Regions from separate parts of the Homo sapiens genome. Here all the other regions are linked to region 3. The links come from fine-mapping of genetic effects on gene expression. A gene starts in region 3. Each other region holds a variant in brackets. All regions are shown on one strand. Distances are from middle to middle. Region 1 holds the start of EPHA1 (EPH receptor A1). Region 2 overlaps EPHA1-AS1 (EPHA1 antisense RNA 1). Region 3 holds the start of FAM131B-AS2 (FAM131B antisense RNA 2).

Region 1 (8,000 bases), 28 kb before region 3:
TCTTTACCGCAAACTGTTTTATCAGCAAGGTTTTTATGACCTGTAACTTGTGCCTACCTCTTATCTCATCCTGTGACTTAGAATGCCTTAACTGTCTGGGAATGCAGCCCAGTAGATCTCAGCCTCATTTCACCCAGCCCCTACTCAAGATGGAGTTGCTCTGGTTCACATGCCTCTGACAATACTAGTCCAAAAAATTAGTTTGTACTAATTCTCTCATAGTAGTTGCTAGCAACATCCTGGGTTACCCTGCTGGTGATGTTGGTTGCATTTTGACCAGAGCCTATGGATATACAAGACCATGACCTAGGCTGGGTGTAATTTCACCTTATCCTCAGTCAGAAAGGAGCTGGGTAGGGAGTAGAAGGGGAATAATATGAACAGGGTAGTGTTAACGTCAAGTTTGTAAGAACAAGCCACAGCCTGGGCTGCAGGGACTCTGCAGGCTTTCCTTTCTGACTGCAGAATGAGAACAGGGCCAGACGCCAGAAGGGGAAAGAGGTGTCCCTCTGGGAGGCCCTGTCTGCTACGAGGCCTGTGGTTCCTAGGGGACCAAAAAAAAGGAGGAGTTTTGGGGTTTGATTTTGTAATTTTAAATGATGTCTTAGGGCATCTCTATAGGGAATACTGCCCAGCATCGAAAAAGAGAAACTGTTGATGGAGGCAACAAGAAAGATGGATCTTAGAAGGATGAGTCTTAGAAGGATGGATCTTGGGAGCATCATACTAAAGAGAAAGACCCAGAGTCCAGAGACGGCATAAAATTCTGGAAAGGATAAAACTCACCCAAATGGACAGAAACCCTAAGGCTGGAGGTGGGATTGATTCACAGGAGCACCAGTGAATGTTTTTAGATGCTGAAACTGCTCTGCATCTTGACTGAGGTGGTGGTGCATATACATTTGTGAGAGCCCATTGAACCGTACACTTGGAATGGCTGCAACTTATTTTATGCAAGTTGTCCCTCAGTAAAGTTGATTTTGGAATGGAAAAATAATGATGTCTTAGTAATTGAGGTTGTTCTGCTCTGGGAGCAAGCTGGGAGGCCTGCAGGAGAACTCCAGCAATTCCTAGCCTCCACCATTCTCCTAGCCAATTAACATTTGCTCAGTACCTTACAGTTCATAAAGCACTTTCTCCTCTTTTGATCATTACACTGACTCTGTGGGGTGGACGTGATTAATCTCATTTTATAGCTAAGGAAACTGAGGCACATTATGGCTAAGGGAACTGGCCAAAGTCTCCTGACTCAAAATCCTGCTAGCTTTTTATTTTCTGAGACCATCCCTGAATATAGCCTCAGAAATCATCTAGGTCTAGGGAAACTGAAACCATGGTCCAGAGAACATAAATAATTTGACAAAAGTTGTACTGCTAGTTAAGAACAGAGACTAAACTTGAAGATGTGCCTCCTCTCATGACAAACTAACCAGAAAATGTCAAATCAAGATAATCCTGAAAGGAGACAGAAAGTGGACATTCATTCCCCATATGCAGAGACTTTCAGACCAGGATAAAGAGCCTATCCTAAAACAAAAAGCAAGACTTTTTTTTCCAGGGTTCTAGACTCCATGTCTCACTGCATGGAGCAGTCTCCCCCACTCCACACACCCACCCCCCACCCCCCACCCTCTGGAGTCCCAAGGGTCTTGTAACTTTAACAAACTGCAGCAGCAAGCACATGCATTACCTCACCACAGTCTGGCTTATGTCCTAGCAGCAATTGTCCAACGCTTGCTCCATTTCCCCCCTTCTGTTGGCTTTGTACCCTTCGCCCATTCCTCCCTGCTGAAATCACAAAGCTCTGACCCCCGCCAGCCAGCGTGAGCCTCCTCCTCCTTCCTGGAGTCTTTAACATTAGAAAAGAGGCCTCTGGTGCAGAGCAATGTGTGTCAGATGGCCCCTCTGTATACACATTTTAAAAGCATGTAAGTGTGGGAGTAGAGGGAGAGAGGGAGGGAAAAATACACGATGGTGTGTACACAGCGAGGAAGCAATCCTGGGAGGACTTACAAGAAACAGTTGATGGTGGTTAACTTGGGGAACAGAAATTAGAGTGTTGGAGGGCAGAGGGTTCTACTTCCCATTTTGTTTCTGTATGTTCAACATGAATTTCCTAACCAATGTACATGAATTACATTTATTTATGCAAATAAGGATAGTCTGAGCCAAGAACTGATGGGCCGTGTTTGTCATATACGTATCTGCATAAGAAAGCAAAAAAAAAAAACAAAAAACCTGAGAAGCATTACATTTTGAAAATGAGAAAAAGCACCTATAATCCACCACCTCCCTTCATTCACAGTACCGAAATGTGCAACAATGTAAATGATAGAAAAATTATGAACAATTTACCCAGATGGGATGGAGCGAAAGAAGGAGGGGCCAGGAGTGGACCCCCAGCCTCTTTAGTAAATGCATCACTCCCCTTTGAGCTACTGTGATCCCTGTGTGTACCTTGCCTGGGGTCCACTCCTGCCCGCCATTTCAATCATTTGTGCAATTATTTATGTCTCAACCCCCAGCATCCCCAAATTAATAGCTTATATAGGGCAAGACATTGTCCTTCTGTTCTTAGGTGCTTCTAGAGCTTCCTGCATGCATAGCAGAAACTGAACAAACATTTACTAAATAGAATATAAGAAAGTCTCGGCAGAGCGCAGTAACTCAGGCCTGTAATTCCAGGACTTTGGGAGGCAGAGGCAGGGAGATCACTTGAGATCAGGAGGGATCACCTAAGGTCAGGAGTTCGACACCAGGCTGGCCAACATGGTGAAACCCCGTCTCTACTAAAAATAGAAAAATTAGCTGGGTGTGGTGGTGCACGCTTGACGCTTGTGATCCCAGTTACTCGGGAGGCTGAGGCAGGAGGATCGTTTGAACCAGGGAGGCGGAGGTTGCAGTGAGCCAAGATTGCACCACTGCACTGCAGCCTGGGCCACAGAGCGAGACTCCATCTCAAAAAAGAAAAAGAATATAAGGAAGTCCGCAAGAAAGTGAGAGGGCACGTGGTTTGACACCACTAAGATGGGTTAAAATATCCTTCCCTGCCACCTGTGGCTGGAACCTTAACCAGATATTCATGTCTGCTGTGTAAGTGCATGTCAAGGTTCAAACTCCTTTTCTTGTTTACCCAGCCCTGGCCCACACCTGCCTTTCTGCCCTGATTCCCAAGACAAATCCTGCGCCCCAGCAGTCAAACTGGTCCATTCACCACTCCCTGGGCGCACCTTGAGGCTCCCTGCCTTCAGGCCCTTGCTGGTGCCTTTCCCAATCTCTGCCACTGAAAACCCAGGTCACACCAGCTCTCCCTGAAGACTCAACTAATGTGCCCCGATGACTGGGCTTGCTTCCTCTTCTAATCTCCAGATGCTTCACTGCAGGTTGTACCCCACCTTGCATTGTGGTCATCTAAGCCTCCCCTGCTAGAGGGTGAAGATATGACTCTTACCCCTTGCCTTCCCCGGCCCTATTACCCAGCTCTGGGGCCTGCACAAAGACAGAAAGAGGAATATAGGAGTGTAATTCAAGTCAGAGGTAGAATTAGGTTAAAAGCTGGATCAAGATTGGGTTGAGTTTAGGATTAGAATTGGGAAAAGGTTCGTCAATTCTTAATCCCACCTACTAGGCGGCGCCCGCAGTCTCATTCGGGTCAAGACGCCTCCGGTTCTTGAATTTGATTACCAGTCTAGCAAGTTTCTTTCCTGCCCTACTGTCCCTTTAAGGAGGTGAACCAGGTGAGGCCGGGACTCCGCCCCCGGCGCTGGCCCCGCCCCCCGCCCCCGCCCGGCCCGCCCGGCTCTCCTAGTCCCTTGCAACCTGGCGCTGCCATCCGGGCCACTGTCCCAGGTCCCGGCCCGGAGCTATGGAGCGGCGCTGGCCCCTGGGGCTAGGGCTGGTGCTGCTGCTCTGCGCCCCGCTGCCCCCGGGGGC[G/T]CGCGCCAAGGAAGGTACCGACCCCCGCCCCCGCGCCCCCAACCCCCGCGCCCCGCCCCTTCCCGGGGCCCGGCCAGCACCCCCCTGCAGAAGCCGGCATTCCTAGGGGCCATGTTCCCCGAGACCCTCGCCAGCTCTCTCGCTGTGCCCGACCGCCAGGCTATCGACTGGCCAGGCCCATCTTTGGTCTTTAACCCCAAGCGGCTGCTCTCCCGGGTCAGTCACCCCCACTCCCGCAGGCCAGCAATCTGCTCCTGGGAGTGGGGAGGGAATTCCGGACCCTTGCCAGGAAGTAGCACCTGCACCCGCACCCCTGCCTGCATTCCCAGACAGTCCCAGCTTCAGGTGCCCACCCCAGAGATCTGAGCCCTTGGAAGTTGAAGGTGGGAAGTCGCCTCCTGCCAACCTAGGCCAGGGACAGAGGGAGCTGCCTCCGGGAGAAGGGTTAGGACTGACGCCACAGGGGTTCCCAGTTGTCCGAGTCGAATATTCCATGTGAAAGTTGGAACACCCTCTCCGGCCTTACTCCCCCCCACTTCCCAGGCAGGTAGCTGTGCCTCTTATCCCCACTTCACGGCTCTGATCACTGGCCAGGTCAGGCCAAAGCAGGCTTCGGACAGTGGAGGTGAGCCTCCCTACCCAGGAAACCCCTTCTGAGGTCCCCGGTCCACCCTGCCCACTCCTGGCTAGCAGAGGTGAGCTCCTCCTGCCCTCCACGCGTTCCAATCCTGCAGCTGATGGGTGTCCCAGGACGCAGCAGCCTGGGTAACTGAGCGTCTCGTGGGGCTGCTCTTCTTGCATTGACTTTGGTCAAAGACCCAGCGCCCCAACCCTTGTCCCACTCTACCTGCCTTCCTTCACACACACAAAGAAGAGTGAAATCCCTGGAGCTCTTCACTCCTCAGTCCTGAGCCCTTTTTCTCCCCTAAGCCTCAGGAAGTCACAGCTTTTAGGAACAGGATGTTGCAGCCTGGGGCTGAGGCCCCAGAATGATTAATGTGGGCTGCAGGGGCACCTCCTCCCCCAGAGGTGACAGACTTCTTTTCTCCCCACTTTCAGTTACTCTGATGGACACAAGCAAGGCACAGGGAGAGCTGGGCTGGCTGCTGGATCCCCCAAAAGATGGGGTAAGTGTCGGAAGAGGGAAGGATCTTGGAAAACTCCTGAAGGCCAGTGGGAAATGGGGTGGAGAGGTGGGTGGAGGAACAGAGAAAAGAGCAGGAAAAACTGGAAGTGTCTCCTCAGGGAGGGGGAGAGGAGGCTGAGTCAGAGCCTCCTCAATGGGACAAGGGGTGGGGGGGTCAGACTTCACCTCAAGATGAACGCTTGAATGGCCTGGCTCCTCCAGTGAATACTTGGGAATATTGTGAATACAAGCTGATACTTGTGAGGGGGAGAGGAGCTCACATACCCGGGGAGAGAATGCACCATGCTGGGGATGGTTGAAGGCTGAGACCAGTGCTTTGCTTGGGGAGGGATAGAAAAGGCAGAAAAGCATCCTCAATCTGAGATCCATTCATCCCAATGAAGTTGCATTGATAGGTTTCAGGGGGTGGGGAAACCCCATGAAAGTGTACTCTAAATTCTGTATATGTAAGCGGGCATTTTTTTTTCTGGAGAGACCAGCCAAAGCTTTCATCAAATTCTTCAAAGGGTCTTTGACTCCTCCGAAGTTAAAAGCTGCTCCCCTAAAGGTTTCTGAGCCCTTAGCTCATCCTCCACACCTCCTCAGGCTGACTGCGTGCACACCATGCATTCCAGCTGTTTGAAAGTGTCAGAGCTTGTTCCAGTTCCCTTCCTTCCTTGGATGTTCCTAAGACTCAGTGAACAGGTTGTGAGGTGGGTCTGAGAGAGCATATTCAGACTCAAATGCAGAGAGCAGCTCTTATGATGTACAAAAAACCAAACTCAGTTTTTTCCTACTGCACTCTCAACACAAATCACTTCGGTGACCTGTGGTCACCAAAATGCGTGTAGGGATTCCTCCCGCCTGCAGTCAGTTCTCTCTGGCAGATTCTTCAGTGGACAGTAGCTGAGTGTCCTCTAATCTTATTCAGTTCTTACACTATCTACCTGGAGATAGCCTCAGGTTGAGGGCTCAGCCCCACAAGACTGCCCTCCTCTAGACAACAATCACAAGTAACATGTTGTCACCTATACTTCTGTTCCATCGGCTGTAATCAGGTTTACCTGACCCTCCTCCTCGGGTTCAATTAGTTTGCTAGGATGGCTCACAGAACTCAGGGAAACATTGACTTGGATTTACTGGCTTACTATAACGGTTATTACAAATGGTACCATGAACACCAGATGGAATAGCTGCATGGGGCAAGGTATATGTGAAGGAGGCGAGCCACCCTGCAGGGACCTAATCATGTATGGCCATCCAGAAGCCCTCCCAACCCCATCCTTCTGGGCTTTTATGGAGACTTCATTACATAGGCGTGATTAATTAGATCATTGCCCACTGGTTATCAGCTCAACCTTCAACCTCTCTACCTTCCCTGGAAGTTGGGGGTGGGGCCGAAAGTCCCAACTCCAATCACAAGGTTGCCTTCTGCCACCCAGGCCTCCCCCACCCCAGTCTAGTTCCCATCCCCGGCAGTCAGCTCACTAGCATATAAAAAGACATTTGTCACTTCAGGGATTTTGAGGGCTTTAGGGGTTGTTTGCCAGGAAATGTGGACAAAGACCAAATATATATTTTACAATTCACAGCACCCTTTCTGCCAGCAGCACAGCTGGTCACAGAACCACTTAGGGGGCTGCCTAAGTTACTGGAGCATCTACAACTCTGGCTCTGGAACCCCTTCTCTCAGGGTTTCCTTCCTTACCCCAGTACTTGAGACTTCAATCCAGCCCCTGTTTCTGGGGTCAGGGTTACTTGCTTTCTTTCCCTCTGGGTCCTACAGTCCTGGCTCCGTTCTCTGTTCTCCTACAGAGTAGCCTGTAATTAGAGCTAATAGACTAAACCATAGTGGATCCTCCAGGAGGGGCCGTTTGGAAGATCCAGCCCTAATAGTTGACTTATCTCATAAATCAGCTAATCACCCACAGTGATAGCTGCAGGTCAGACTTCTGGCTCCCATGGGCCTTCCTTGGGCCCTTGACACCTCCACCCAAATAACTCTTCCCTAATTTGACTGGAATGGCAGCAAGGCCACTTTCTCAGCACAGGCAAAACAGTCCTGCATGCTAGGAGGGCAAGGAGACAGCCAGCAGTCATACACTCCCACTATCTACCTTGTCCCCCTCCTTCTCCCCATCTTTTCAAAACACACACACACACACACACACACACGCACACATGCACACGCAGGCATTCAGGTCCAGAATGCACCCATGTGGCAGCCAGCAGCGCCTGAGTGATAAGCAAAAGGATCCTTACTGCTGATCCTGGACAGCTGGCTCTCGCCCATCTGTCACTGCTGGAACTGGGAGAGGCAAGGCACAGCTGGGAACATCTGCTTCTCCTGGCTCCAGCTTCAGCCACGGCAATCTGGCTAATGAGCTGCACGTTAACCACTCACCACCCTGCCCACCTGACCCCCGCCAGTGCCTTCCACTTGGGCTTCCCCAGCACAGCCTTCCTTAGGAGAAGCCTCCTGGTGCCTTTTTCATTCCAGCTTCCTTGCCTTTTAGACACCCCTTGCCCAATCTTTGAACTCCCTAACATAATGCAGAAATATGTGCCTCATAGCAGCTTCTATTTCTGCCCCACCTCACCCCAAATTTTTGATTAATGATTTTTTTTTTTGCCTTTTCCCAGAGCTGAGGGTAGGGATGAGGGCCCCTGCATTATAATGGAGTAGAAACCTCAGGAAAGTGAACTTTCTAAGGGCCTCAGTCTATTCTGCATTAAATTATGGGGTTGCAACAAAAATATCAATAGAATACTTTATAGAATTTGAGAGCTTTTGAAAATTCATCTGACAGAGGAAATAAGAATGGTTGAGAAGAGTTTTTGAAGAATGAAATGGGAGACTTGTCTGACAAGCAGATATCAGAACCATCAGCTATAACTAAAACATATGTCTTGCACAAGATCACTCAGGTTAATGGGACAG
Region 2 (8,348 bases), 120 kb before region 3:
GGATGCAATTATATCCTGGCCACAAGGCTAGGGAAGGAAGTCTAAGGAGGTTCAGTCATAATGTGATTATGTTCACAAAATATAGGCCTATTTTCAGCTTTACCTAATGCCACTATTAAACTTGAAAGTCATTGGACTTTGGCAAAATATTTTGCTGCATGAGTAGTTGAAATTAAAAGCTTCAGCAAAAGAAATTTACTCCCAAATTATTTAAACCATTTTACCCAGAATATTCCTAGAAAACTATGTTATCAAAGAGTACAACATGATATCGTTCATTGTATTTTCCTATAAGGACAATATGATAGAAGGTTGGTTTTCTGACTAAAACTTACCATTAAATTAATCCTCTATATGGCCAAAAATACACCAAAATAAAAGTATTATCAATCTTTGAAATAAAGTAGTGAAATAAGTCTAATTCTTTAATAAAATCTGTATAAGCAGTACTATTCTTAATGCAAGTGTCCCAATCATAAAAAGCACATATAGATCCTAAAAAATTTAACTTGGTATTATAAACTTAACTATTTTTATAATAGGTTAGATTTACTAATCTTTTATAAAGTCTAGATTGTTTTTCGTAGAGAGAACTTTAGAATAAATGTTTAGACAGCCTAGATACCTTAAAATTGTTTGTTAAAGATGTTTGAAATAGATATTTTCTTTTCTTTTTTTTTTTAGATGGAGTCTCACTCTGTCAACCAGGCTCGGGTACAGTGGTGTGATCTCAGCTCACTGCAAACTCTGCCTCTTGGGTTCAAGTGATCCTCCTGCCTCAGGCTCCCAATCAGCTAGGACTACAGGTGTGTGCCACCACACCTGGCTAATGTTTGTACTTTTAGTAGAGAGGGGATTTCACCACGTTGGCCAGGCTGGTCTCAAACTCCTGACCTCAGGTGATACACCCGCCTCAGCCTCCCAAAGTGCTGGGATTACAGGTGTGAGCCACCACACCCACACTTCTTCTTCTTTAAACATTTCTTTGATAAGCAGAAACCTTCAAAATCATTCTACTGATCTTAATGCTACCTCAAACTAGCAGAGCAGAATTTTAAATCTATGTTTCATGGTGGCTATATTAATAATGATTATAGTGCTTCTCCCACCACAACTCAAAAAACTAAAAAACTCTAAAATCTAACCAGTGTCATATATAAAGCTTAGAGTCAGACCTCTGTCTCCATTTAGGAAATACTTGACATTGAGCCAGGCTTGTGTGGCCTAACCCAGCCCCAATTCTCTCCTTCCTCAAATGAAATAATATCTATGAAATTTCTTGAAATTAAGCACTGTACAAACATAAATTATTTTTATTTGTGGAAAAAGAAGTGGAACATTCTCCTAGCAAGATGAGAGCTGGAGAGTCATCTTTATTAAGGGAGCTGGGAGAATTTCACTGGATTCCTTTTCATTTGACTTAGAGGTAGATGGAGAGAGGAAGGAGGTCTGTAAGGCAGTTTCTCAGTCAGCACCCCTCACTTTCCTTCTCCATCTTCAAGACAGCTGCTGTATATTCACTATCAACAGGAACAAAGACAAGATGAAAAAGGGCTCCTGTGCCTCTGAACAGCTTCTGGACCTCAATTTACTCTTGGATAATCATTTCTGGCCCCTACACTCACTACCCTCTTTTGACCTCCCTCTGGCTCCAGTGTGCCCATGTCCACCCTACCTGGCCAGAAGATGGCTTCCTGAACTGGACTCTATCGTCACCTTTGTAGAGGGCTTAACCCAGTAGCCCTCTACAGGCTACAGTCAGCTTCCAGGATGTGAGGGAGCACTGAAACTTTCTGCATTTATTGCAAAGCTTGAGGAATAGTTTCAATTAACAGAGCTTCTAAAAAGGTGCTTCCAAAATATCTCTCACAACCTACCAAGGATGGCATAAAACACTTCAGGTTTGAGGCAGAGAACTGTTGGAACAGTTTGTATTTTGCGAAGGAGAAAAATATGAAAATGTTCAGTTTACAAGGCACAGCAGGATAGAAGTAAATGTGTGAGGAAATAAAAATTAATCTCTGTTTCTAGCATTGGCTTGACTGGCACCTTTCTTCTAAACTCTTCAAAGCATTTCAACATAAAAATATCTACTATTCACTGAGGGCTTATCATGGACTGGACACTGTGCTAAGTGCTCTGCATGGATCGTCTCATTTGATCTTCACAAAAGCCCGTGAGTCAGGTATTACCATCCTCCCCATTTTACATCAGAAGAAACTGAGGCAGTAGAGACTTTAACTTGCCCATTGCTGCAAAGGCACAAGGTAGGAACAAAGATTCAGACTTGCACATTCAGGGTCTAGAACCTACACCTTTAGCCACCAGGCTATGCAGCCTCCAGAGGGGTCTTGGTGGGCTAAGTAGATGAAACAACCTCCGCTACACAGAGTGCATGTGATACTGAAAAAGATTTGAAAATCTTGCGAAAATATCACAGCCACGATGGAATTCCCAGGTCCCAGACCACAAGATCTCAAATCTATTGTAGAAACTAAGGGGAACTGGTTTACTGAACAAGCTGAATTCACAAACTGTAATCAGAAAAGTGCTGTGTTCTTTCTCATCTCCATACACTCAAACCTGCACTATGGGGCTAGTCCTTCTCTGTGCCTTGGACTAAATCCATAACAAGTAGCATGAATGTTCTAGTTCCTCCCAAAAAATCAAAACGTTTTCATTCGCCTTAAGTCCCCAAAACATTCTCACTGCAGTCTTAAAAATATCCAGCCCAAGGTAAAATCAAACCTCTAAACCTTGTTTTAAGATAAAGCTTCTTCTGACTCCCAACCCCAAAAGCTTAAAGTGGGGAATGTTGGCTTCTTCTCTCTTCTCTAACCTTCCTAGCTTCCTCACCTCCCTCCCCTGCCTGGCCCCCACTAGACTGCTTCTGACTCCTCATGGGTTAGAGCAGGGGACAGAGACAGGTAAGAAGCAGAAATGTTCTTGTTGATGTGCAGTGGGGGAAGCACTTGGAGAGCAAGAAGGAGATCAGACTCAAGAAGACAAGAGAAAGTATAGAGAACAAAGCTGGAGGATCTTTAATCATGAATTAACCCCAGGGCAACCTGGGATGGGAGTAAGAAAAGAGATTAGAATCTGTGTTAGTTTCCCATTGCTGCTGTAACAAATTGCCACATATTTGTGGCTTAAAACAACGTAAATGTATTCTCTCACAGTTCTGGAAGTCGGAAGTTCAAAATCAATTTTACTGGGCTAGGGTCAAGGCATTGGCTGGGCTTGTTCCTTCTGGCAGCTTCAGAGGAAAACTCATTTCCTTGCCTTTTTTCAGCTTTTAGTGGCTGCTGGCATTCCTGGGCTTGTGACCTCTTCCTCAGGTCATTCTAACTTCTTGCTTCTACCTTCACATCTCTTGGCCTTTGGCGTGGGCTGCCAGTCATCCTGTTCCATTCAGCTCTTCATGGATACAGCCGACTGGGGCTGTGGATGTATGTGGGCAGGGGAGGGAATGAAGAAATGCAGCCAGGATAGGGCACACCGCAGCACCAAGCAGCTACAACATAATCAGATTGTGAGCATTAAACAGAAGGCATGTGGAGTAGTTTTCTAAAGCAGCCTGTTCGATTCTTTGTAAAAGGCCCTTCACGGTTTCCCCAGCTTGATATGGGCTTGGCCCTAAAGAGAAGACGGAGGCAGAAAGATCTGATGCTGGTGTTCCTGCCTCTCTCTCTAAAGACCCTTGTGATTATATTGGGCAAACCTGGCTAACCCAGGATAATCTCCTCATCTCAAAATACTTAATCACCCCTGCAAAAATCCCTTTTGCCATAGAAGATAACAGTCATAGACTTGGGAGATTAGGACAGAAGGTGGACACATGTGCAGGGCCATTATTCAGCCTATAACCAGGTCCAAACTGTTAGGGAAAAATTGAGGCAAATGCTTAGGCCTGGAGGGGAGCCAGAAGGCTCTAGAAATAAAAACGAGTCAGCTTCCTTAACTCAAGGCCAGGAAGCAAACTCTATCTAAAGAGCAGGAAACACCCAGCCAGAACTCTTTTCTCTGCTCCTTTTGAGTATTAAGACACGTCATTTTGCTTAATTCAGTCATGGAAAAGATCTTGACAGCAGAAAGACACTGCTTCTGCTTTTGCAAACCTCTGTGTGGAATTCCACAATGCCAGAGCATAAAGAGACCTTTGCCTTCTTCCATTGCAACCACTTTTTTTTTTTTTTTTTTTGAGATGGAGTCTCACTCTGTCTCCCAGGCTGGAGTGCAGTGGCATGATCTCAGGTCGCTGCAACCTCCACCTCCCGGCTTCAAGTGATTCTCCTGCCTCAGCCTCCCAAGTAGCTGGGACTACAGCAGGTTCGT[A/G]CCTCCATACCCAGCTAATTTTTTGTATTTTTAATAGAGACGGGGTTTCACCATGTTAGCCAGGATGGTCTCCATCTCCTGACCTCGTGATCTGCCTACCTTGGCCTCCCAAAGTGCTGGGATTACAGGCGTGAGCCACTGCACCTGGCCGTTTGCAACCAGTTTCTTTTAGAAAGGAATGTGAGAGGCAGCATGGTCTAGTGAAAAATGCCCAATATTTGAAATTTGACATCGGGTATATCCCAATTTTCATCTTGGCTGGCTCTTTACCAGTTGTCTACCTCTGGCCCAGTCTGTGTCCACCTTGTAGAACTGTTCTGAATGTGACAGAATAACATTTTCTTTTCCTCACTCCTGAGACATGACACAGATTCTGTCCCATCTTTACAGCCGAGCCCGTATCAGGCTGGGGAAACTGAGAAGGGCCTTTCAAAAAGAATCAAATAGGCTGCTTTAGAAAAATATTCCACATCGGCCAGGTGCGGTGGCTCAAGCCTGTAATCCTAGCACTTTGGGAGGCCAAGGTGGGCCGATCACCTGAGGTCAGGAGTTCAAGACCAGCATGGCCAACATGATGAAACCCCATCTCTACCAAATATACACAAATTATCCAGGCATGGTGGCGGGTGCCTGTAGTCCCAACTACTTGGAGGCTGAGGCAGGAAAATCACTTGAACCCAGGAGGTGGAGGCTGCAGTGAGCCAATATTGTATCACTGCATTCCAGCCTGGTTGACAGAGTAAGACTCTATCTCAAAAAAATAAAATAAAATAAAATAAAATAAAATAAAATAAAATAAGAAAAAGAAAAGGAAAATATTCCATGTGCCTTGGGTTTAGTGCTCAGAATCTGATTACCTTGTAGCTGCTTGGTGCTGCGGTGTGCCCTGTCCTGGCTGCGTTTCAGCAGGACGAGCTGAATAATGAAGAGAAGAGATGCCCAATTCTCTGTCCAAGATGGACACCATATGGAGAATTGCAGGCACAAGGATAACACTTAGAGAAAAACAGATCAATCTATATTTTCTTTATTAATTCCAAATTTCTGAAGCCCTGAGGCACCTACATCAAAACCCACAACCTTTGGATTTGAACACTGAGATTTTGATAAACTAGGGAACTCAGGATATGACATAAGGGAAATCTTCCATTTCATGAGAGGGCAAAACCTTCTCTTTCTGACACAGACTTGGGAATAAATAAAGGAAGAGAAAGGTAGAAGAAGCAGACATTCAAATATATGTGTTCTAAACAGCCCTCCAAGGGACTGAGGCCCTGAGGATGAAGAGATAGGATAAGAAGAGGCCAAAGGTGGAAATACTTTCCTGATCCCCATTTAGAGCCCTACCAAGAGACTGTTGTTCAGGGTGACCTAGAAACTCCAAAGATGTTGAGGGACGATAGAAAAGCAGCAGTGAAAGAGGATGGCAGGCAAGCCAATCTGAGCATGCTCCTGGCTCCCTAGAATATGGAATTCATGCCTCAAGTTCCTGTTTGTCTCGAATGGGAGGTGCAGATACAGGAAGCAGCTGGGAGCTCAACCAAAGAACATGCCAGAGGGGATCAGCTTGGTGGAGAAAATGTGGCCATATCACTGAGAGCTACAGAATGGACTTCCCAACTCAGGGCTCCAGAAGAAATCAGTCATGTCTGGGAGGTGATGTGTGTGTGTTTGGGGGAATCACAGCATTGGAAAACCAGAAGTGGGACCATTTCAACAAGAAGATGGCCACCAAGCCTTGACAAAGCCAAGACAACAAACAGTCCATGGGTTCCTTGGCCACAGCCTCCAACAGTGGATGACACAGGTTGGATCCACATAAACTATGTCTCAACAGAAACCTGCCACGTGAATAAGCAAAGATTCGAGTGGTTGTCCAGCTGCAGAAGCCAGCACCAGGACCAGCACAAAACAAGAGTGATTCTACATATCCATTCAAAGCCCCACAAGTCAGTACTATCAGGTTTTGTCTTATGCCCAGAAGCCCTGTTGATAAGGAAGAAAAAGAAATATACCACTCTGATATAAGGTAGAACTTCAAATTAATTAAATATTTACCTGGAAAGATCATTTTAAGTTAACAGAGACCATTTATACTGTAAAAAAACTAAGATACCTTTAATTGGTATATTATATTGTTTGCTTTTTGTCTTCTTTCTACAGTACCCAACAGAATGGAGACTCAAGAAAATAATATCATTATAGAAAACAAAATAGCTACGTCTTCAGGGAACATCAGTAAAGAGTATTCAAATTCATTATCCTAGCATATAGACAAGTTGATCTTGAAGTAAAAATTGTCCTGGACTTCATGTTTGCACTTGTAATTTATTAAGGAAAGACTTCTTTTCTAGAAATGGAATGCATAATGCCCGTTCAATGTTAATACATAATAAGGAAATTATGTAAAGTTTCAATTAGATGATTCTTATAAAGCTTTTAGTATTCATTGAATTTTAGTTACTCATCCTCATTAAGTGTTTTCCCCTAAGTCATTTATGAGAAAAGACCAAAGCATAGAAATGCCACTTTAAATTTTTCCTACATGTAGAGATAGGAAACAGAACAGTATTCTAACTCAGTCATGCCAGAGCTAATTCATGATGAGTTGTATCCGAGGCTGTTGAAGCTGCTGTCAAGCATAGCAGTCATCAGTTCCGGTAAAATGCTTCCCAGAAGGTACCTTTTACATTCACTGGGAAAGATGAGGAAACGTTAATTCTGGTAAAAATGGAATGGAAAGAACTGAATGGAAAGGTTAGTAACTGAGAACCAGAAATAGTAGTTCCCTGGGAGTGAACTAAATTATTGCTAGTAACAGGAAACTCTTGAGGCAAGGAGATACTGGGGTGGGGAAGGAGAGAGTAGGAAAGTGGTTAGTGGTGGGGCAGTTCCAAAGGAGTGAAAGAGGGGAAAGACCCAGGTGAGCAGCATGCCTGGGCCCACACAGATATCACAGGAAATCAATTATGTCCAAGGCTGTGGGTCTTTCATTGCCTTCTTTAGTGAAACTCCTGGTATTGGTCAATCTCAAAGGAAATGATTCTTCCCCTCTCAAGTCCAGTTTGGAACTCATGATGGAATGACTTTAGTCTCAGACCTCAGAATCTAGTACCTAGAATGAAAGGAAAATGTTGTAATGCACACACTGAAAAACACAGACTTCTGCAGGACCTTGAGGTCCAATTCCACCATTTGGTTTCACAAACAAAGAAACTAAGACCCAGGGAGATTAGGTGACTTGTCAAAAGTCATAGAGCAATTTGTACCAAAGCCGGAGTAAAACCCATTGTCCTGCCTCTAGTCCAGGGTGTTTGCCACCATAGAATATTTCCAGATTTATTTTTTATGGTATAAATAGTCGAAAACCTATAGTTATATCTACTTTGCTGAGATACAGTTTTAATTGTATCTTTCCTTGAATGCTCACTTATGTTGCCCAAAGGCTATTCAGTAGTGCCAGGCATTAAGACAGCAAATTCATTTCCTAATATCACTATCTCAATGCGATACGTCTATATCAGATATGTGAATTTTTTAAATTTCATTTGGATTCCTATGAGAGAAAAAATATGTGTTTATTATAAACATTTAAAAATATTTGTAACAGTTTGTTCTCTCATTGTTATAAAGAACTACCTGAGACTGGGTAATTTATTAAGAAAAGAGGTTTAATTGACTCACAGTTCCACAGACTGTTCAGGAAGCATGGAGAGGAGGCCTCAGGAAACTTATAATCATGGTGGAAGGCGAAGTGGAAGCAGGCACATCTTACACGGCCAGAGCAGGAGGAAGAGAGACAGCGGGGAGGTGCCACACACTTTCAAATAACCAGATCTTGTGAGAACTTAACTCACTATTGGAAAACAACAAGAGGGAAATCTGCTCCCATGATCCAATCACCTCCCACCAGGCCCCTCCTCCAACACTGGGGATTACAGTTTGACATGAGATTTGGGCAGGGACACAAATTCAAGCCATATCAATATTGATAAGCTAAAAATAAGAAAACA
Region 3 (8,167 bases):
TCTCACATGCACGGTTTAATTTTCATTGCAGCTAACATTACTATTGCCCAAGAGTGAATTCACACCCATCACTGACCTCCCTCGAATACACATCTCTGCTGGTGAAACTTTCCAGAAAGCTTCCAAAAACACTGCTTTCACCAGCCCTCCTGACCCACCCCACACCTACTCAAAAATCATGAATGCCTCTCCAGTGCTCAAGAGCTCCTTGGGTGAGCCACTTCACCTCCTACACCCTCCAGCCCCGCTTGCCTCTCCAAGTATAGCTCTATCATTTTCCTACAGGAACCTTCCACTTTCTGTTCTCCAAACATCCCTCTCCTCTCTGGATTCTTACGTCCTGCCCATCCTTCGAAGCCTTTCCTAATTTGACTCCCCGAGTTGACTCCCTGGTCTGAGTGCCTGTGACTCACAGGATTCTGCAAAGCTCACTGGCCCTTGGCATTTCTTCCTATGCTGTGTCCGAGTGTAGGTAGACATCAACACTATCAGTGGACTCTGGATGCTTGGACTAGATGACCATCAGGGTCATCTTCGTCACCAGAAATTGGACGATCTTATTTCCTGAACTAGAAGGCAAGAACCATTTTGTAATTACAGCTTTTCTATTTTGAGCATTCCTGTACTAGATACAGAACCCAACACTCTCTAGGTATTAGCTCACCCAATCTTCACAACCACTGTATGGAGTAGAGAATGTTAAAGATTGAGAAACTGAGGCTCAGGGTTCACCTAACTTGCCCAGTCTAAGGACTTGGGAGAAGCTGAGCCAAGAATTCCATTCCAGGTCCATCTGACACCTGAAGGCTGAGCTTCTTGCAGAGATCTCTTCCCTCCCATGTCCTACCCTCCTGGGCACAGAGCACAGTGCCTGGCACGTGGTGGATGCTGGCTCAACCAGTGTTTACTGGGGCTGTCTCTTACCTCCAAGCCCTCAGGCAGAAAGAGTGCTCAGAGGAGCAGGGAGATTAACTCAAGACCCAAGAATGGGAAAAACCAAGGTGGAACTGGTGATCTCATCCCTCCCTTTAACTTTCTGGGGTAAAGGCACAAGGAAAGGTCCACCAGATCCTCCTAATTCAGAGCCCATGCTCTCTGCGCCGTCCCAGCCAGGCCCCACCCAGCCCCACACCCAGCCAGGCCTCTCCTCCAGAGGAGCATTTTCCTACCATTGTTCCACCAGGCTAACCCCAGAGGATGAAAATTCCTATCCCGCCACCCCGCAACCCCCGTGTCCACCCTGACTCTCCAATCACCTTATGCTTATGCTCTGGCTCCTGACCCAGCCCCGCCCCAGTGCCCTGGTACCAAGCCTTGTCCTATCACCATCCCTCACCTGGTTTTGGTTCTGAGCCGGTGGGGGCACGGGGTGCTGCTTCTCCTGCACTCGGGGCTTCTCCCTCTGCTGGGCATAGGTGAAGCTGGGAGGTTGAGGGGAGCCTGTGCCAGCAGAAAGAGCTTCGGGGTGCCCCAATTTTTGATTTGGTTGTGACCCAGATCCACCTGGGGCTCCAGGACTGAACTTGGAAGCCACAGGAGTAAACTTAGGAGTCACTGGAGAAAACTTAGGGGCTGGAGCCGGAGATGAGGCTGGGGGCCCTCGGGGCTGGGTGTTAGCCAAAGACACAGGCTGGGTCTGGGACTGGACATGGAGTTGGACCTGAGGCTTGGGCTGGGGCTGGGGCTGAACATGGAACTGTGTCTGGCTCTGAGCCGGAGCCGGAACCTGGGGCAGAGGCTGGGAGCTGGAAGGGGACTTCCAAGGAGGCAGGGGTGCTGTGCCCCCGGCTGCAGGCTTGGTACTGGACTTGGAACTGAATGGAGTGGCCACTGGTGGGGGCACATATCCAGATGACACCTGCAAGGGGTGGGAGAGGGAAGAGAGATGCAGTCAGGAGGACACCATCCTCCTTAGTTCTATGCCCAGTCTCTCTGGCCCTGAGCCCTGCTTTTCCTACTCTCCGGTCCCTTACCCGGGCTTTGAAAGGATCATTCTTGGTCATGTCATCCAGCAGTGAGGACAGAGAGTCGATCTCCAAATCAATACTGCTCACCTTCTCCCTGGGCTAGAGGGTCAGAGGTCAGAGCACCTATTCCATGCCTCTATCCCCCCACCCCCAAGGCAGAGGTGCAGGGGAGGTAAGAAGAAAGGGCCCTCTTCTCCTCTCCTTGGGGGTGTCCAGTGCAGCCGCCCCTCCCAGGCCTCCGTACCTGTGGTGGGGGCGGTATGGGGGCCTCAGGCCCTCCCTCCTCCTCCGGAGGAGGCGGCGGGGAAGGGAAGATCTCCTCCTCCAGAGGCGCAGGGGGAAATGATTCCTCGATCGGGGGAGGGGGCGGCGGGAAGGCACCTCCCAGAGCACCCTCTGCATCGTCGCCATCCCCAGCAAGGGGAGGTGGAGGCAGGGGAAAGTCTGGGGTAGGAAGGAGAAAGACGTCGGCCGGGGTCCCTCTACCCCTCACCCAAGCTCCCCTCAGTTAACCGCTCTAACCCCTAACCCAAGAACTCTCTCAGGGGTCCCAGAGCGTGTGGGGAAGCAAAGGAGGGGCGCAGGGCGCCCTGGGAGTACCAGGTCAGGAAAGGCCGGGCGCACTGCCGAGGAGTGGTGCAGCTCCCGTTACACTTCGGAAAACGGACCCGGAGGGGAAGATTCGTGCCCCACATTCCCGACTCCCACTCCCAGGCGGGGGACTTGGAACGGTCCCAGGAGCCCTGGCTCCCAGCCACGAGCTCCACGATGAGGTAAGAACATCTGCTCGGGACAGGGTGGCTGCGCCCAGCCCCCTCGGCAACAACCTTTCCAGACATCCCCAAATTCCCGAAACGACTGCCCCCCACCCCGGCTCCTGCCGGGGTACATTCCCCAAGCCCCGCCGCATACCTTCCGGGGGCGGCGGGGGAATCTCGCCCACCCGGCCCATCTGTGCGCGCTGGGCCCCGGGTGCCGGGGGAGGCTCGCTGTCCCCGGGCCGGAAGGGATTCACTTTGGGCTTTGGGGCCACCACAGGGCCGAACTTCTTCTGCGGGGCGTAAAAAGCCGGAGCCGAGACCGAAACGGAGATCGCGGGAGACGGGCGGGGGGCCGCCATGGCCGGGCCGGGCTGCTGGGGTGGGTCGCCGGGTTACGCAGCGCGGAGCCGGGCTCAGGAGCCCCAGGCGGTCCCAGCTCCCCTTGGTGACCCCCACTCGCCCCCTCCCGGCGCCCCGCGCCCCCTCCCCGTGGGGCCGCCCTGCCGCTCCCCGCGCCTCACCGCAGGCCGGAGCGTGCGCGCCGCGTCTCGGGTGGCCGCCTCGGCGCCGGGTCCGCAGACTCTGCGTCCCGGTCCGGAGCAGCCTCCAGCCGGGCGGGGAGGGACACACGGAAGGAGGAGGGAGGGAGAAGAGAGGGGGCGGGGAGAGAGCGGCGCCCAGACCATACAAGGAGCGGCCCGGAGAGGGGGCGGGGAGAGCGGGGAAGGGCGGACCAGGCAGGAAACTCCCCCAGGAAGGGGCCCTGATCCTGCCTCAGGCCGGAGGCTCCGCCGAGGTCCGCTCGCCCCCACCCCACTCACTGCCGCCCCCGCCGCCCCAGCCCGGCTCAGACCCCCACTCCCTGAGCACAGGCCTCTGATGTCATTTCCTGACCTGCCTCCCCCTCCCCGCCCGACCCGCGGGTGCCCGAGATCTGACTCACCGTCCCCCTCCGGGCTTAGCCGGCGGAGGTGGGGCGGGTGCCGCCGAGGTAGCCACGCAGCCCCTGTGCGCCTCCGGCCCGGCCCAGCGACCTCCTCTCGGGCCTGCCGTTACCCGGTCCCCTCCTGCCACCACCCGCTACCCGGCCACCCCGAGTCCGCCTGGGGTGGCCGAACGTATGGAGCTGGGCTCCAGGGTGCACGGGGATGGGGGGTGAGGAGCGGGGCGTTCTCCCTCCCAGCACCCCCCAGCTGACTCTGTGCCCGGAGGGGGTGTGTGAGCCGGAACCTCCAGCATTCTTGGGGATACGAACTTCCAACGCTGGGCAGCCTCTTAAGGCTTCTAGGAATTCGCATCCCCAGCGCCCCAGCCAGCAGATCGGTTGCGAGAGGGACCGTTCGGGTCCGCGGGGCCGGGAATGGAGGTGGGAGGGCGGGGCCGAGGCGGCGGCCGCCTGCGGACTGGAGACCCGGGAGGACGGACGCGGACGCGGGCTGCTCGTCTTTTACGGCCCTTCAACGCCCACCACGACCCACTCCTCTTGGAGACCCCGGGCGACGGTGGGGCTCTTGGGCATTCTGAGACTGCGCTTGGTGGAGACCCCGGGCGACGGTGGAGCTCTTGGGCATTCTGAGACTGCGCTTGGTGGAGCCCCCTACTGGCCAGACTGGATTTCTCAGCCTGCGACTCAGCCCCAGGCTACACGAAAGAAGCCAGACCTGGGTAATTCTTCTAGTTCTTTTTTTTTTTTTTTTTAATTGCACTGGGAAACTTCCCCAATCTCGGCCCCAGTTCTTTCTCCAAACTAAGGAGTCATGGCCTTTCGCCCGCTAGTCCAGTATGCACCCGTAGGCGCTTCATTTTCTCTCCTCTTGTCAGCTTTTACTGCCTCCTGAGGCCTTCGTCTTGTTCACACTGAGTGTCCAGTCCCTCCAAATCCGGCTACACTCTACTGGCAAGGAGCACCTGGGCCATGTTTTAGAGATCATCCGAGGACTAACCCCAAAAGTTTATGAAGAGAAAGCAGAGGCCGAGCTGAAGAGATGGACCCGGGTCACACCCAGGTAAAGGCAGGATCTAAACTGAAACTGGTGTCAGATCTGGTTGCCTTGCACCCCTGATATCAGGTGAAGCAACACTGGGCAGGATAGAGCAGAGTGAGGTCAGAGTGTGAAGATCCAGCCTGATGCCCAAACTGACGCCTCTTCATTCTCCCCTGCTCCATCTGTAAACGTCACGGTTAATCCATCTACTTTATTGCATTATATAGAGAAATAAATGAAATGTCATAGCTGTATGCGCTATATGACTCAGTATTATTATTCAAATTCCAGTTCTGCCCAGAATGAAAATTCTGACCTGGTTACACTAAGGCGTTTTCCCCCATATGTCCCTTTCTGGGTTGCCAGGCAGATCTCTCAGGGGCCTCGGTATGTGCAATGTCCTCTCTTTCCTTCAACCTTATTAAGTCTTTAATTATACCTAGGACGACATCTTAATCACTTTTGCAAACCCCACTGATCTTTTTCTCTGGCATCTCATTGTCTTTGTCACCACCAGTATTTCTCACAGCCACAGGCATGTGTGGCCATGTATGATGGGTAGTACGCAGTGCACACCTCTCTGACACGCTCAAGCCAGCCCTGGGCCTGTCTCTGAAGACATGTTAGAAATTTGATACTGGATTTCCTGTGCATGTTGGAGATTGTGTCTTGGGCTTCACAGACCAAAAGTCTCATCACAAATCCTTCAAAATATGGCCCCTTTGGGGAAAAAAAGATAGTTAAGAAGATGATTTCAAGATAACTCATAGGAATAAAAGCTATCTACCCTCTAAATGTCTCCTTAAGTAATGTGCGCGTGCAAAATAGAGTATGTGTAATTGTTAGGCAGCTGAACCTATTTTTAAATCAGAAATAGAAGAGTGCGTAGGCAGGCATAGTTTTACTGACAACTAAGAGCATTCAGAATGCGGAATATTCAAACAAAGACTTTTAAGCCAGCCATTCTAAATACAAGTAGAAACACCCAGAGTATCCCAGAAGAACAGAATCACTGCCCAAGATGTCTCAAGAGGAGCAGCAGAGTCAGTGCTCTTAAAATGAAGACAATGGGCTGGGCGCAGTGGCTCACGCCTGTAATCCCAGCACTTTGGAGGCCAAGGCAGGCAGATCACTTGAGGTCGGAAGTTTGAGACAAGCCTGACCAACGTGGTGAAACCCAGTCTCTACTAAAAATACAAAAATTAGCCTGGTGAGGTGGCGGGAGCGTGTAGTCCCAGCTACTGGGGAGGCTGAAGCAGGAGAAGAATCGCTTGAACCCAGGAGGCGGAAGTTGCAGTGAGCCAAGATCACGCCACTGCACTCCAGCCTGGGCAACAGAGTGAGACTCCATCTCAAAAAAAAAAAAAAAAAAAATGCAGGAAATGAACAAGAGTGGCCTTAACGATTGCTGGGCATTTTTCTTAAGTAAGCAATTCTAATTGATATCCTTAGGCAGTATGTGTGAAGTACAGCAAATAAGAAGATGTTCCTGACTAAAGAATGCCCAACAGCTTAAGACCAGGCCAGGGAGACAAAGTGAGAAAATGGCCACTGCCCTTTACTACCTAAAACATCTTCACGCGCCTCCAAGGATTTATAACCATCAGGTACCAGAAAGTTTTCTTCAAGAGTGCACAGCATAAAGTAGGAAGTTAAGAGCAGTCAGGGAAGGAAAATGAAAAGACAGTGTCACAACAAAAGAATGATTTCTAAAATGGAAAGAGAAATGTGACCAGGAGGTTCTTTCCATATGCCAACTGCAGATGGATAGAGGTTCACTCACGGGCCAGGGACCACGTGAAGCATTCTGAAAACAGCAACAATAGCAGCACCCTAATAACATCAACAACTATAATAGCAGCACACGCTGAGAGAATGCTTAGAATATTGTTTGAGGTGCAATGCTAAGCACTTTAAATATATTAGCCCTGGCCAGGCACAGTGGCTCACGCCTGTAATCCCAGCACTTTGGGAGGCCAAGGTGGGTGGATCACCTGAGGTCAGGAGTTCAAGACCAACCTGGCCAAGATATAGTGAAACCCCATCTCTACTAAAAATACAAAAATTAGCTGGGCGTGGTGGCACGTGCCTGTAGTCTCAGCTACTCAGGAGGCTAAGATGGGAGAATCACTTGAACCTGGGAGGCGGAGGTTGCAGTGAGCCAAAATCGCACCACTGCATACCAGCCTGGGTGACAGATCGAGACTCTGTCCAAAAAACAAACAAACATATATGTATGTTTGTTTATATATATATTCGCCCCTTCTAATCATCACTATAAACCTGTGAGGAATATACATCATTATCCCATTTTTTAGTTAAGGAAACTGAGGCTAACTGGATGTTGGATTTCTCACCTCCTAAACTGCAAAATTTTTTTGCAACACAAATATTAAGACTCTCCTGCCCCATCCTTGCTTCCATCCTTGTATTCCATCACTTCTCCTCAGGCCCTCCTACCTGGTCCATCAACAGCCCCTTTCAAGTCTGCCTTCACCCCAACACCCCTACTTTATACCTGTGGGCTACCATTTTCTCTTTCTGTCTCATGACACCATCAAATTCTGTCTGTTTATATATCTATCTGCATGTGAACACATACACACATTTTGTATATGCAAGCTATATGTATACGTGCTTTTGTAAAATAGCACATTTCCAGAAGATGTCAAGAATTGTTAACAGCACAGCCAGGCGCAGTGGCTCATGCCTGTAATCTCACCACCTTGGGAGGCTGAGGTGGGAGGATCACTTGAGGCCGGGAGTTCAAGACTAGGCATGGCCAACATGGAGAAACCCCGTCTCTAGAAAAAATACAAACATAAGCCGGGTTGGTGGTGTGCGCCTGTAATCCCAGCTACGAGAATTGCTTGAACCAGGAGGTGGAGGTTGCAGTGAGCCGAGATCGAGATCGTGCCACTGCACTCCATCCTGGGCGAGGAATGCGACTGTGTGTCAAAAAAATAAACAAATAAAAAAGAATTGTTAACAGTAGTTAATGTTAGGGAGTAGATTGAGGAGGACAGAAGGCTTTTATACTTTTGTATTTTGTCCCTGTGAACATGTATTACTTTATAATCTGAAAAAAGAAAGGAGAGAAATGAAAGAGCCGTTGTATCTTTTTCCTGATATTGGAGCACCTCCCTTGCGCTGAGTACTGTGTGCACTCGGCCTGCAGCTTCCCACTTGCTCCCAGATTTACTGCCCCTCTCATCCCACTGGCCTGCATGCCAGTACAAAAGAATCTCTCCCTGAGGGAACTGCAGACACGGTGGATGATGAACCATGGATGGGTTGGGCGCGCATCAGGATGAGGTCTGGGTGAAGCACACAGCAAGACCCAGAGACCTTTGCAGTCAAGGCCAAGGTTGAGCAGCCTCCTGCCCTGTCCAAGGGCCACTCCCCCAAGAGAGGGGTGGGACTGACAACCACAAATGCCCACGTTTCCTTCTTT

Evidence for each region.
Region 1: its variant is fine-mapped to the expression of FAM131B-AS2 in whole blood (INTERVAL, PIP above 0.99).
Region 2: its variant is fine-mapped to the expression of FAM131B-AS2 in whole blood (INTERVAL, PIP 0.96).

The regions. Positions count from the first base shown.
Region 1 is chr7:143,404,671-143,412,670 of GRCh38, reverse strand. It overlaps EPHA1 (EPH receptor A1), which reads left to right and starts at 3,815. Exons shown (of 18, transcript NM_005232.5): 1 at 3,815-3,947; 2 at 4,993-5,060. The coding sequence starts at 3,866. It overlaps EPHA1-AS1 (EPHA1 antisense RNA 1), which reads right to left and starts at 4,858. Exons shown (of 5, transcript NR_033897.1): 1 at 4,785-4,858. RefSeq lists enhancers at 3,131-3,743, 7,328-7,842. The variant G/T (reference allele first, on the strand shown) is at 3,934.
Region 2 is chr7:143,495,068-143,503,415 of GRCh38, reverse strand. The region is part of intron 2 of EPHA1-AS1 (EPHA1 antisense RNA 1); the gene reads right to left. It overlaps LOC105375547 (a long non-coding RNA gene), which reads right to left. Exons shown (of 2, transcript XR_928075.3): 1 at 8,020-8,348; 2 at 6,644-7,450. Among named protein-coding and RNA genes, the nearest start is that of TAS2R41, 21 kb to the right of the region's middle. The variant A/G (reference allele first, on the strand shown) is at 4,336.
Region 3 is chr7:143,376,492-143,384,658 of GRCh38, reverse strand. It overlaps FAM131B-AS2 (FAM131B antisense RNA 2), which reads left to right and starts at 3,634. Exons shown (of 2, transcript NR_161353.1): 1 at 3,634-4,393; 2 at 4,550-5,504. It overlaps ZYX (zyxin), which reads right to left and starts at 3,314. Exons shown (of 10, transcript NM_003461.5): 1 at 3,250-3,314; 2 at 2,880-3,102; 3 at 2,212-2,411; 4 at 1,974-2,066; 5 at 1,337-1,858. The coding sequence starts at 3,087. It overlaps MIR6892 (microRNA 6892), which reads right to left and starts at 1,973; the gene lies at 1,859-1,973. It also overlaps a transcript of FAM131B not described here. RefSeq lists silencers at 2,795-2,844, 2,875-3,904 and enhancers at 4,405-4,494, 3,618-4,518, 4,675-4,754.